2 separate regions of the Homo sapiens genome follow, and region 2 is reported to be linked to region 1. The links are microRNA targets in miRTarBase. Many come from high-throughput screens and were not tested one by one. Region 1 holds a microRNA gene; the other region holds the end of a gene's coding sequence.
Evidence for each region. The annotated mature microRNA hsa-miR-1248 reads ACCUUCUUGUAUAAGCACUGUGCUAAA and lies in region 1 at 3,628-3,654, shown strand. An mRNA with a match to its seed (bases 2 to 7 or 8) in the 3' UTR can be bound and repressed. Matches are read on the target gene's strand: a 7mer-m8 pairs with bases 2 to 8, a 7mer-A1 pairs with bases 2 to 7 and ends in A, and an 8mer does both.

Region 1 (5,237 bases):
ATGTTAACGGTCGGGCTAAATGCCAGGCAGGTCTTCATTGTGGAATTAAACAGCGGTGGGAGCAAGCGGAATAACCGAGTTCCCCTCCCGCACCTGAGTGCCGGCAGCGAGCCGCGAGCCGGGACCTGTCACCCGCGGGAAGCCCCGGCCGCCCGACGAACAGCATCTCCGGTTTCCGCCTCCGGCTCCGGCGCGGCTCCCCCGGCCCGCCTCTGCGTCAGGGACGCGGAAACCCCGTAGGAGCAGGGCGGGCGGGGAAAGCGAGGTTTAACTAACTCCGCAGCTATATTCTTCCGCCGCGAGGTAAAGAGTCCCAACCCAACCCCGGGCCCTAGGATTTCCAGCGACCCTGTAATATCGAGAAATTACCACATTTGGGTTTTTCTACCAACTTGCTTAGGATTTTATCCGAGGTAACGACCCCAGGATCACAATTTTGTAGCTGACCGAAGCACGGCGAGAAAATTCCTCCGCAAGAAACGGGTTCCGGCCACGAGCCTATAAAAAACGGGTGGTTGGGCGCCGCTGTCTTTTCAGTCGGGCGCTGAGTGGTTTTTCGGATCATGTCTGGTGGCTCCGCGGATTATAACAGGTATGCAGTCTGTTGGCGGTCGCGGTCTGTAGTGAAGGTCATAGGGCGCCAGGGGAGATGATAGTGGATGGCACGGAGGCAAAAACTCTAAATTAATGGACGTTTTCTTAGGGTACAGCACTCCTGTGCCCTTCCAGAAGCTTCCATGATGGGTAGGGCCCGGATTGTGGGGAGATAGGACGGTGGTGCGAAAGCAGTGGCTAAAGGGCGTTTTTCCTCTCTAAGACATTACGAAACTTCGGCTGCTTTCCTTCCCAGTGTAGAGCACGGGAAACATGGAGTAAAAAGCCGTGGCGCAGTCCGAGTTCGGTACACTGTAACCAGGACCCGAAGCTTTATTTTCGGTCATCCACACGAGTTGGGGGAGGGTCCTAGGCTTTACTTGGGGAAGGGTTGGAGGCAGCGGTCTCCACTCGGCCACGGCGCGGAGGCGACGGGACAGGACCGGTGCCGGTGAACCGTTGGCATCGCCCTCGCCAGGCCGCTCCGCCCGCGTCAATCACCCGGCTTGCGCATTGTTGGGGGCGGAGTTCGGCGCTCCGAGCTCTCGCGAGACGCTCCGCAGTTGAAACGGGATCGCCATGCGCTCGGGCCTGGGGGGCTGCCTTTCCGGGCATCCGCAGGCCCCAACCTTTAGGGAAGGCGCACAGTGTGGATATTCGCCCTGAGGCTGCTGCTTTAGCTTGTGCAGGGGAGGCTAACGTGCTGAGACGGGTTGCAAAGGGCTATGCGCTTAAGGTGCAGTTGAGGTGGCCTGGAAGGGGTGTCTGACTGCAGTATTCTTGTCAGCAGAGAACATGGCGGCCCAGAGGGAATGGACCCCGATGGTGTCATCGAGGTAAGAAACGGTTGTGGATCTTGAAGCTTTGGAAAGGTGAGTGTGTTCATCTCATTTATGCGTGCATTATTTTTTCTAACTTACAGAGCAACTGGAATGAGATTGTTGATAACTTTGATGATATGAATTTAAAGGAGTCTCTCCTTCGTGGCATCTATGCTTACGGTTTTGAGAAGCCTTCCGCTATTCAGCAGAGAGCTATTATTCCCTGTATTAAAGGTAAAAGAAACTGGCATTTTTAGGAAATTGTTCTACATAGACATGAACCATAAAAGGGAAAGTAACCTCTGGGGGACTAGCACCTGTTTGTATTCCTTAAAGTGAAATGATGGCAATCATCTTTCGGGACTGACCTGAAATGAAGAGAATACTCATTGCTGATCACTTGATTATTTGGGCATAATGTTCCAAATGGAATACATGGTGTGAAGTAGAAGTGACAATTTGATGTGGGATCGGTAAATGTGTATCCTACTTTTTTTAGGGTATGATGTGATTGCTCAAGCTCAGTCAGGTACTGGCAAGACAGCCACATTTGCTATTTCCATCCTGCAACAGTTGGAGATTGAGTTCAAGGAGACCCAAGCACTAGTATTGGCCCCCACCAGAGAACTGGCTCAACAGGTATTGATAGTGTAGTTCAAAAAAACTGCTTGCGTGTTGCATAGGTTTCAGGTTTCACAACTGTGAAGAATTTAAAACTTAGTATAAATTGGTCCTACCAGATCCCTCCTTTTAATTGTCCATGCATGCAGGGAGTTTTTGTTGAAAGTTTTAAAAGAACTGGGTATGCAGGTATGGTTTGTAGGGTTGTATACTAATAGATTGAGAATCCGAAGCGCTCTCTTGGATGTACTAGATCTGTCCCCATTTTTTAAGTTTGAATGCAGTTGTGCAACATGAAAACTGCAGTGACATGTTACCATTTGACTGTCTCCGTAGTTCGTGATGCATCTGTTGCATGCTATGTTTTCAAAGCTCACTGCTATATTGGCTTTGAAGTAAACCTTCCTAATAAAGCTGTAGGCTTTATTGAGGTCAGGATTATATAAGGCACAATACCCTCTGGGGGAAAAAAATCATTTGCCCTAGCTGTAATTACAGAACATAAATTTCACTACGTACTCCCTACCTACAGTGAAGAATAATGTAGGAAACGTTATTCTTGGATTGTCTAGCTGATGCGTGGAGCAGCAGCATCCCAAGTTTGACAAGGCATAAGAAAGACATTAAGGGAATTTTACCTTGCAGCAGTTAGGTCGTCTGCATTTTAAGCTTGGAAGTAGTTTTGTGCTGTGCATGCATAAAAGCTGTTGGCAGACCAGATTATATTTGCCTTTATGCTTTAAAAATTAGTCATTGATCCTGGAGTTCTGCGGAATAATAATTAAGGCTTGGGTTTTAGATCCAAAAGGTAATTCTGGCACTTGGAGACTATATGGGAGCCACTTGTCATGCCTGCATTGGTGGAACAAATGTTCGAAATGAAATGCAAAAACTGCAGGCTGAAGCACCACATATTGTTGTTGGTACACCCGGGAGAGTGTTTGATATGTTAAACAGAAGATACCTTTGTAAGTATTGTCTTTAAGAGAGTATTTTTTTTAAAACTGTTAACATAGTTGAAAAGTCAAATTGTATCACTGAGTAGATCTAGAAATGACAGTATGACTTTGTTTCTAACAGCTCCAAAATGGATCAAAATGTTTGTTTTGGATGAAGCAGATGAAATGTTGAGCCGTGGTTTTAAGGATCAAATCTATGAGATTTTCCAAAAACTAAACACAAGTATTCAGGTAAGCATTACTTCACCCCCCTCTTAAAGGTAGAGATGGGGTTTATTTAATGCAGGTACTGTTACAATACAACTGATGTGTTTTGTTGTCGTTCCCCCTGCTTAAAGCACTTGATGCATAACTCTGTCTACCTTCATTCCGTAGTAAGACAGAGACGCTTGGCTTCAGACATTTTCCTTTGGGTATTAATGTGTAAGTTGTGCTACAACATAATTTTCTCTTTTTAAGGTTGTGTTGCTTTCTGCCACAATGCCAACTGATGTGTTGGAAGTGACCAAAAAATTCATGAGAGATCCAATTCGAATTCTGGTGAAAAAGGAAGAATTGACCCTTGAAGGAATCAAACAGTTTTATATTAATGTTGAGAGAGAGGTAACTGTCTGATTGTTAGACATTATTTTACCTTCTTGTATAAGCACTGTGCTAAAATTGCAGACACTAGGACCATGTCTTGGTTTTTGCAATAATGCTAGCAGAGTACACACAAGAAGAAAAGTAACAGCACTAGATTGTAAAGACTGGGGTGGACCTCTTTCTTAATGTCCAATGTCCTTTGTCTTAAGATTTGGTGCAATATCTCATTAGACCTAACAGAATGAAGTTAATTTTTATAATTTCTACGTTTTGAGACTGGGTTATGAGACTGGCTAAGACTGGCCAATTTTGGTATTTTGGGTAGAGACAGTTTCACTTTCTTGAAACCCTGGTCTGGTTGGAACTCTGGGCTCTAAGTGCTAGGATCCCAAAGGGCTGGGATTACAGGCATTAGCACTGTGGCTGGCCCAGAATGAATTTTTAACTGAAGAGTTGGAAAAACTAAATGACTGTTAACTTTAACTTCTAAACATTACAGGAATGGAAGTTGGATACACTTTGTGACTTGTACGAGACACTGACCATTACACAGGCTGTTATTTTTCTCAATACGAGGCGCAAGGTGGACTGGCTGACTGAGAAGATGCATGCCAGAGACTTCACAGTTTCTGCTCTGGTAAGAGGTGTTCTAAAATGTCTGGATTTCCACTAAAGCAGGATTCAGACTACAATATAGCTGCTAAGTGCTGTGTTGTCGTTCCCCCTGCTTAAAATAAAGTTGTTTCTTAACTATACCTGTCTGCTATTCTCCTGTAGCAGCCAGGGACGCTTGGTCTCATACATGTTGATTAAAATTAAATACCGACCTGACTGGTGATTCTTGAATTAAGGTTTATTAATTTGCAGCATGGTGACATGGACCAGAAGGAGAGAGATGTTATCATGAGGGAATTCCGGTCAGGGTCAAGTCGTGTTCTGATCACTACTGACTTGTTGGTAAGTCTCTTAATGCTTTTTAAAAATCTACCAAAAGTTAGCTTTTTGGGGGGCAGGTTTTTAAGTAACCTTTGCCAACTTGGGCTATTTGGAAGAGTAAAAGACCACACTCCACAGTGGGCTATACCACTTAGTATAGTTCGCTACTATTTTGTGGCCTACATGACAGGTGTCAAGTTTTTTTGAATCAATTTTTAAAACATGCCATTGTGTTTCAGGCTCGCGGGATTGATGTGCAACAAGTGTCTTTGGTTATAAATTATGATCTACCTACCAATCGTGAAAACTATATTCACAGGTGAGAAGCCAGCATCTTGGCTGTATTGAAAAAAATTCATACGTTTTTCTACTGTGATTTGTATGAAAGGTAACATCAAATCAAGGAATAGATTCAGTAAAGTCAGTAGTGTTCAGTAAGATGATGTAATTAAATTTGTACTAGGGAAGGTTGATGAGAACAAAGTGGGAAAACTTGTAAACATTGCCCAGATTGTGGACATAGGGTTTTTTTCCACAATTGTTGGTCTTACCTTATGCTTGAGCTTTTAGTGATGTTCTTGTGTCCATGTGTTTTTCTTGGTGATTTTTTCTATAGTTGGGATTTTCTTGGTGTCGCCTGGTAGCAATTTGAGTGAACCCTGGTTTAGTTATAGTGGCTTTATCCCTAAATAAATTGAATTGTACTTTGTTATATGATGTA
Region 2 (5,237 bases), not on the chromosome of region 1:
TGACTTTGCATAAAAGGAACCCAGAGTCCTCTAGTCTTGGTGTTTTTCCTATAATCTTCTCATAGTGGCTAGAATAGAGATGATAGAAGAATAAGTCAAAATAAAGTATTTTTGAACCCATGTTGTTTTCAAAGCCACTGTGTTACCTTTTCCTAAGGTATTACCAAATAGAAAAAGTGTCCCCTCCACCATAGCAGCTCAGCATAAATCTACCATTACAATTTCCAATTGACCTATTCATTAATGTTTATAGAAAATAACCCCCCAAAAACCTCTAATCTGTGTTACAAATCAGGAGAAGATTTAGATGATGTGAAGATAGGGTAGGGTGACCAACTTATCCTAGTTTGCCTGGAACTTTCCCAGACATAGTACTTCAAGTCTCACCTCCAAGGAAACCCCTTAATCTTAGAACCCAAGAACATCTAAATCTTACCATGTCTTAATCCTCCAATTCCCCAGGAGGCTCCTCAAAAGGCCACACAAGGAAGAATCAGCAGCAAACTGTAAATATTTTATTATTATTATTCGGTTGGGCTAATCTTGACACCCCCAGAGAGAGCTATAGTTAAGCTGTGACAGGGCCTAAAGGCCTCTGTATTTGCTCCTCCAGCCCATACTTTAAGATTTTAAAAGCTAAGATCTTTTGGCCTGGAGTAAAGTAGAAACAGAAGACTGAAGCAAAGATGGACTTGGGTCTATGTGCAAGGAAGAAAGAATAGAAAGATAGTTGGCTTGAGGGCTTTGGCTTGGTTTCTCTCTCCTAGCTCATGGAAGCATGACGCAGAAGGGAAAGCCACATGTATGTGGTCTTTTATTGCTGAGTGACTCTTGGGTAATCATGGCCTAATCCACGTCCTGGAATATTAATGGCATCTCTTCTCTAGCGGTGAGCAAAGAGTGGGAGTGGAAGAAGATAGGGAAAGACCGCCCTCACCCCCCAATGCCAACAACAAAAAACCAACCCAAGAGGCATGGAAGTGGCACTTGTGAATATGTGAAACCTCCATAAGAAATCAATTTTTTAAATGAAGCTTATTTCAAAGTAATAGAAGCCTTTTTAGTTTCTTTAGTAGACAATTTATTTTGATAAACTTGCTCAATAACAAAAATACAAGTGAGGAAAATTATGTTCATTTTATACAGTTGTATTAACAATTTGTTTTGAAACTATTAATTGAAAAATGTTATAACCAATTAGAAAACAATTCTTAATAAAGTTTGGGATAATATACAGACCTTGATCACAAACTTCAAAATCTCTTGAGGTGATACAACTAAAAGTCCTGTGTAGGGAATCCTACCTACACGGGCCACTTTTTTCCTTCATGTTTTTATCCTTCAAAAATTTTCTGAAAGACAGCTTACTGTTTTGAATTGTGAATGTAAATTTAATTTTTTAAAGATGAAGTGGGTTGATAAAACAGTTACTATAATCAGAGTAACTTGTGGCTAGTAGTCTTTTAATAAAGACAAAATAAATGCAACATGTTCTTCCCATGAAGCCCATGATGCAAAATAATAGCTAACAGCATATGCAAAGTTAGTTTCCAATACTGTATTTTTCAGGGCCTTTCCTCTAAATCAACAGATTGTTTGTCACCAGGACTATTTATTATTTCACTTAATAGATTAAACAGTGAATTCACAGAACATCAAGTGGGGATATCAAAGCTTTAGGCAAAAGGGTAAAAACCAATAGTGTTTTGGTCATCTAGAACATTAAAAAGAAAAAAGAGCCATCCTTCAAAAACAAAACAAATGAAACAGAAAATAGGTTTATAAGAGGTGGAAGAGTCAGAAAAATTACATACACACATTAACAACATAGAACATGGATTACCTTTGGAAAGAATCATACTGAAATGTTTGCTTTTAATAAATTGAAGATTTTTCATGTTTACAGATGTTTGGGTATGTTCAATAGGAGCTTCCAAAAATGTCAAACTAATTCAGTCTTGTGCAAATAAAACCTAAAAATAGTTTTCAGCAGATTTTACAGTGATATTCTTAGGTATGAGAAGAATGCACACACTCTAAAAACAATGAAACAGACAAAAGTTTGACAAATGATTGCACCATAAAACAGTGTTTTATATACAGTTTACAAGATACGATTTCCTGCTATAAATTAATACTGTACTATATAGTACTTATTATAGTGACCTTTTTTAAAAGCAACTGCGGACAGTTGTCTATCTTTTCACTTATAGGATTTATAGAAATCTATATGAATGAATCCATTTCAATGTCTGGTCTGCAAGAGTACGAAGACTTGACTTCACATACTACTTGATGGGATGGTTTAATCCTGGGTTAGAGTGCTGACTGGCTAGAGGGAGTTTTCCCCCATCAGCCCTGTATGCACTGGACCTCCAAGACAACAATGAAATTAAAGACAATTTAATGGTTTGGGTAATAGATACAAATAAAACCTTAAATTTTGTAATCTTAAATGCAATACCACCATAAGTGAAAGAAGTAAACAGTGGGGAAATTCTTAGCAGCTGAGAAACTTTCTCTCCCCATGCTCATGATCCAGTTAAAAATATTTTGAGAAACTATTTACAATACAATTCATCTTTTGGAAGAGAAAAGCTCTTGGTCATGTCATAAGTTAATTTGAACCATACTTTGCTAACACTTTATCTCAGTGGTATATAACGGTGACAACCAAAGCTTTCCTTCAAAGTGATCCATTTGACTGAGGACCAATCAAATCAGAATAGCAACTGCAATCCCAAATGTCCATAGAACATGTCCAGTGGTATTCTTAGACTTGACTAGACATCATCATACTTGGGGAGAAACAGTCTCCCTCAGGATCTCCCAAAGGTTTCTTTTACTCTGGGAAGGAAAAGTATGACATTCTCCCAGAACACTTAAGAAATGCACCACAGTGGTGGTCCATCTCTCTCCCCAATTCCTGAGTGAGCTCAAACACTGGGGTTTTCTTTCACAATAAAATACTGCTGAATTAACAGTAAGATAGAAGACTGTCAAACAAGCCAGTGTGAAACACATCAAGCACCTCCATTTCATAGTGTGAATATCTGAGGAGGTAGCTCCCATCTTTGAAGTAATCATTCTAGAACTGATAATCTAGCCTTAAAAACAGTGCGTTCATTTCTGCTTGTGTGAAGCATGGGCCACATGGGACTCTACTGACAGGGAGTCATTTGGGTCATCAGTTCACTATAAATGACAGGGACATTTGGGTCACCAGTTCACTATAAAGAGGAGAAACTTAGCTCCACTGCCATGAAACACCCTGTCCCACATTTCAAACAGGAGATTATCTATAGTGTTCACCAGGAAAAACAAGCATTGATGCGAAGGCATGGAGATGTGGAGAAGAGAAATACTGTATTTTAAAACTGTGAGTTCAAGGGTTAGCTGCAATGCTTCTTTTAGGGAAGAACTTAAAGCTGTGGGTTTAGTACAGCCCTTTAAAGTAAATGCAAAAATATTAGCTTTTAGCAAACAAAGGCATATAACATATAAAGAAAATATTGTATTGCTCAGGTTTTGGTAAAGATGTATTAATAATGCTTACAGATAAAAATAATGAAATTAGTGTTGTAAATAGCCAAAATAGCCAGATATTTACTAGCGAACTTTGTATTTATGTAAAGTGTGCCTGAACATATAAAATGCATTATTAATGTAACAGACTGAGCCAGTAGAAAAAGAATCTCTGTACAACAGACAACAGTTGCCAATAATTTAAATAGTGTCAGATTCCCCAAATTATAAGGTTTGACATGATCTTACCTTCTACTATCATATACAAATAAATTAACCCTACAAATAATTTTTAGCTTAACTTAAAATCGCACCTAGAAAGGTATGGGATTATCTGTACCTATTACAAAAACCTGTTAAAATCAAGGGCTGCTACAAAGAATGAGGTAAACTGAAGACTCTCTCCACTATGCAGCCTTCAGATAAATGGCTTTTTTTTCTATTGGGTTCTAGGTTTGCACACCACAGTGTTTTGCTAGCAAAGCATTCAGAATTCTCTTCCAGGAACTGTTTGCATGTGTGTGTATATAAATTTACACACACATACACACACACACACACACACATATATACACACTGTATACTGCATCAGCAAAATATATATATTATATATATTTATATAAATATAAGGAAGATTTCCCCCACCCACCCACCCAAAACATGTGTCTTAGTGTTTGATTTTTTTTTTTTTTTGTACACAGAGAGAGGGAATTTCAGAATTTTTACATACATTTTAGCAAACAAGTTTTGATCTATTGGCTTCTTGGTGCAGTAATGCAACGGCAATCCATTCTGGTGCCAAAGGCTCATACTATTACAAGGAAGTTGTGAACACTAATTTCTTAGGAGGTGAGGCCAGCCCCACATGAACTTCTCTTGCATCCCTCTGGTCCACCATGACACATAAATACTTAGACTTTTTTTTTTCCTCTAATGAATCATTAGACATTAAAAACGGAATAACAGAGTCACAAAGGGCCACATGCTTTTCGGTATAAAGCATTCTCCTTCTCTAGGTTGCTATCACAGTGCAGACCTGACTGCCTGAATATGCTCAGGAGATTTAGTCAATATTGTCTGTATTTGGTTATGGAAAAGGCTCTCCTTTTTTTTTTTTTTTTTAAATCCAAAGTGCATAGTGAGAACAAACCAAAGCATTTTTTTTTCCTTCTCAGCATCAGTTTCATCTGAGCATCTTCCCATGAGAGGCCTGCTCAGATGCCTCGCCTTTGTCCTCTCCACCCTCCAAAAATAAAAAAATAAAATAAAATAAAAAATAATAAGAGTCAAGCAATTTAGACATTCATCAGCCTGGTAAACAAACTTTGCCAGCAAATAGAAGTCCTACTATTGTAAAGAAAATTGATAAGACAAAAAGTACATATGATGACCCAACTACTGTGTTGTTGGGTAATTTATAAGGTTGACCTCCGACTTCATTGATGTAAAATCCTATTGGAAATATTAGGGCAGCCATACAGAAAAGGATCACTGTAAAACAAACCAAAACACAACATTAGTAACATGGTTTGGTGATTTCAAAAAACAATGAAAATTTGGCACAAAGGAAGCTTGTAAGAAGGGCTGGCCAAACCTGTTAAAACATGGACCACTTGTTAAAAATGTGTATATATTTCAGGTCACATAGTATCCCTGAAGCCTAACAATACAGTAAAAGCTAGGTTAGGCTTTTATGTAAGTTTTAGGACAAT

Region 2: the mRNA of MOSMO is a reported target of hsa-miR-1248. Seed matches in the 3' UTR shown: 7mer-A1 at 4,691-4,697 and 7mer-A1 at 4,531-4,537.

What each region holds. Positions count from the first base shown.
Region 1 is chr3:186,783,048-186,788,284 of GRCh38, forward strand. MIR1248 (microRNA 1248) reads left to right here and starts at 3,625; the gene lies at 3,625-3,730. EIF4A2 (eukaryotic translation initiation factor 4A2) reads left to right here and starts at 530. Exons shown (of 11, transcript NM_001967.4): 1 at 530-592; 2 at 1,385-1,430; 3 at 1,517-1,649; 4 at 1,915-2,054; 5 at 2,836-3,004; 6 at 3,117-3,226; 7 at 3,455-3,598; 8 at 4,080-4,217; 9 at 4,448-4,537; 10 at 4,756-4,835. The coding sequence starts at 564. SNORD2 (small nucleolar RNA, C/D box 2) reads left to right here and starts at 1,749; the gene lies at 1,749-1,818. SNORA63B (small nucleolar RNA, H/ACA box 63B) reads left to right here and starts at 3,276; the gene lies at 3,276-3,400. It also overlaps SNORA81, SNORA63 and SNORA4. RefSeq lists an enhancer at 1,206-1,435.
Region 2 is chr16:22,080,475-22,085,711 of GRCh38, reverse strand. It overlaps MOSMO (modulator of smoothened), which reads right to left. Exons shown (of 3, transcript NM_001164579.2): 3 at 1,058-5,016. The coding sequence ends at 4,832. Among named protein-coding and RNA genes, the nearest start is that of VWA3A, 9.4 kb to the left of the region's middle.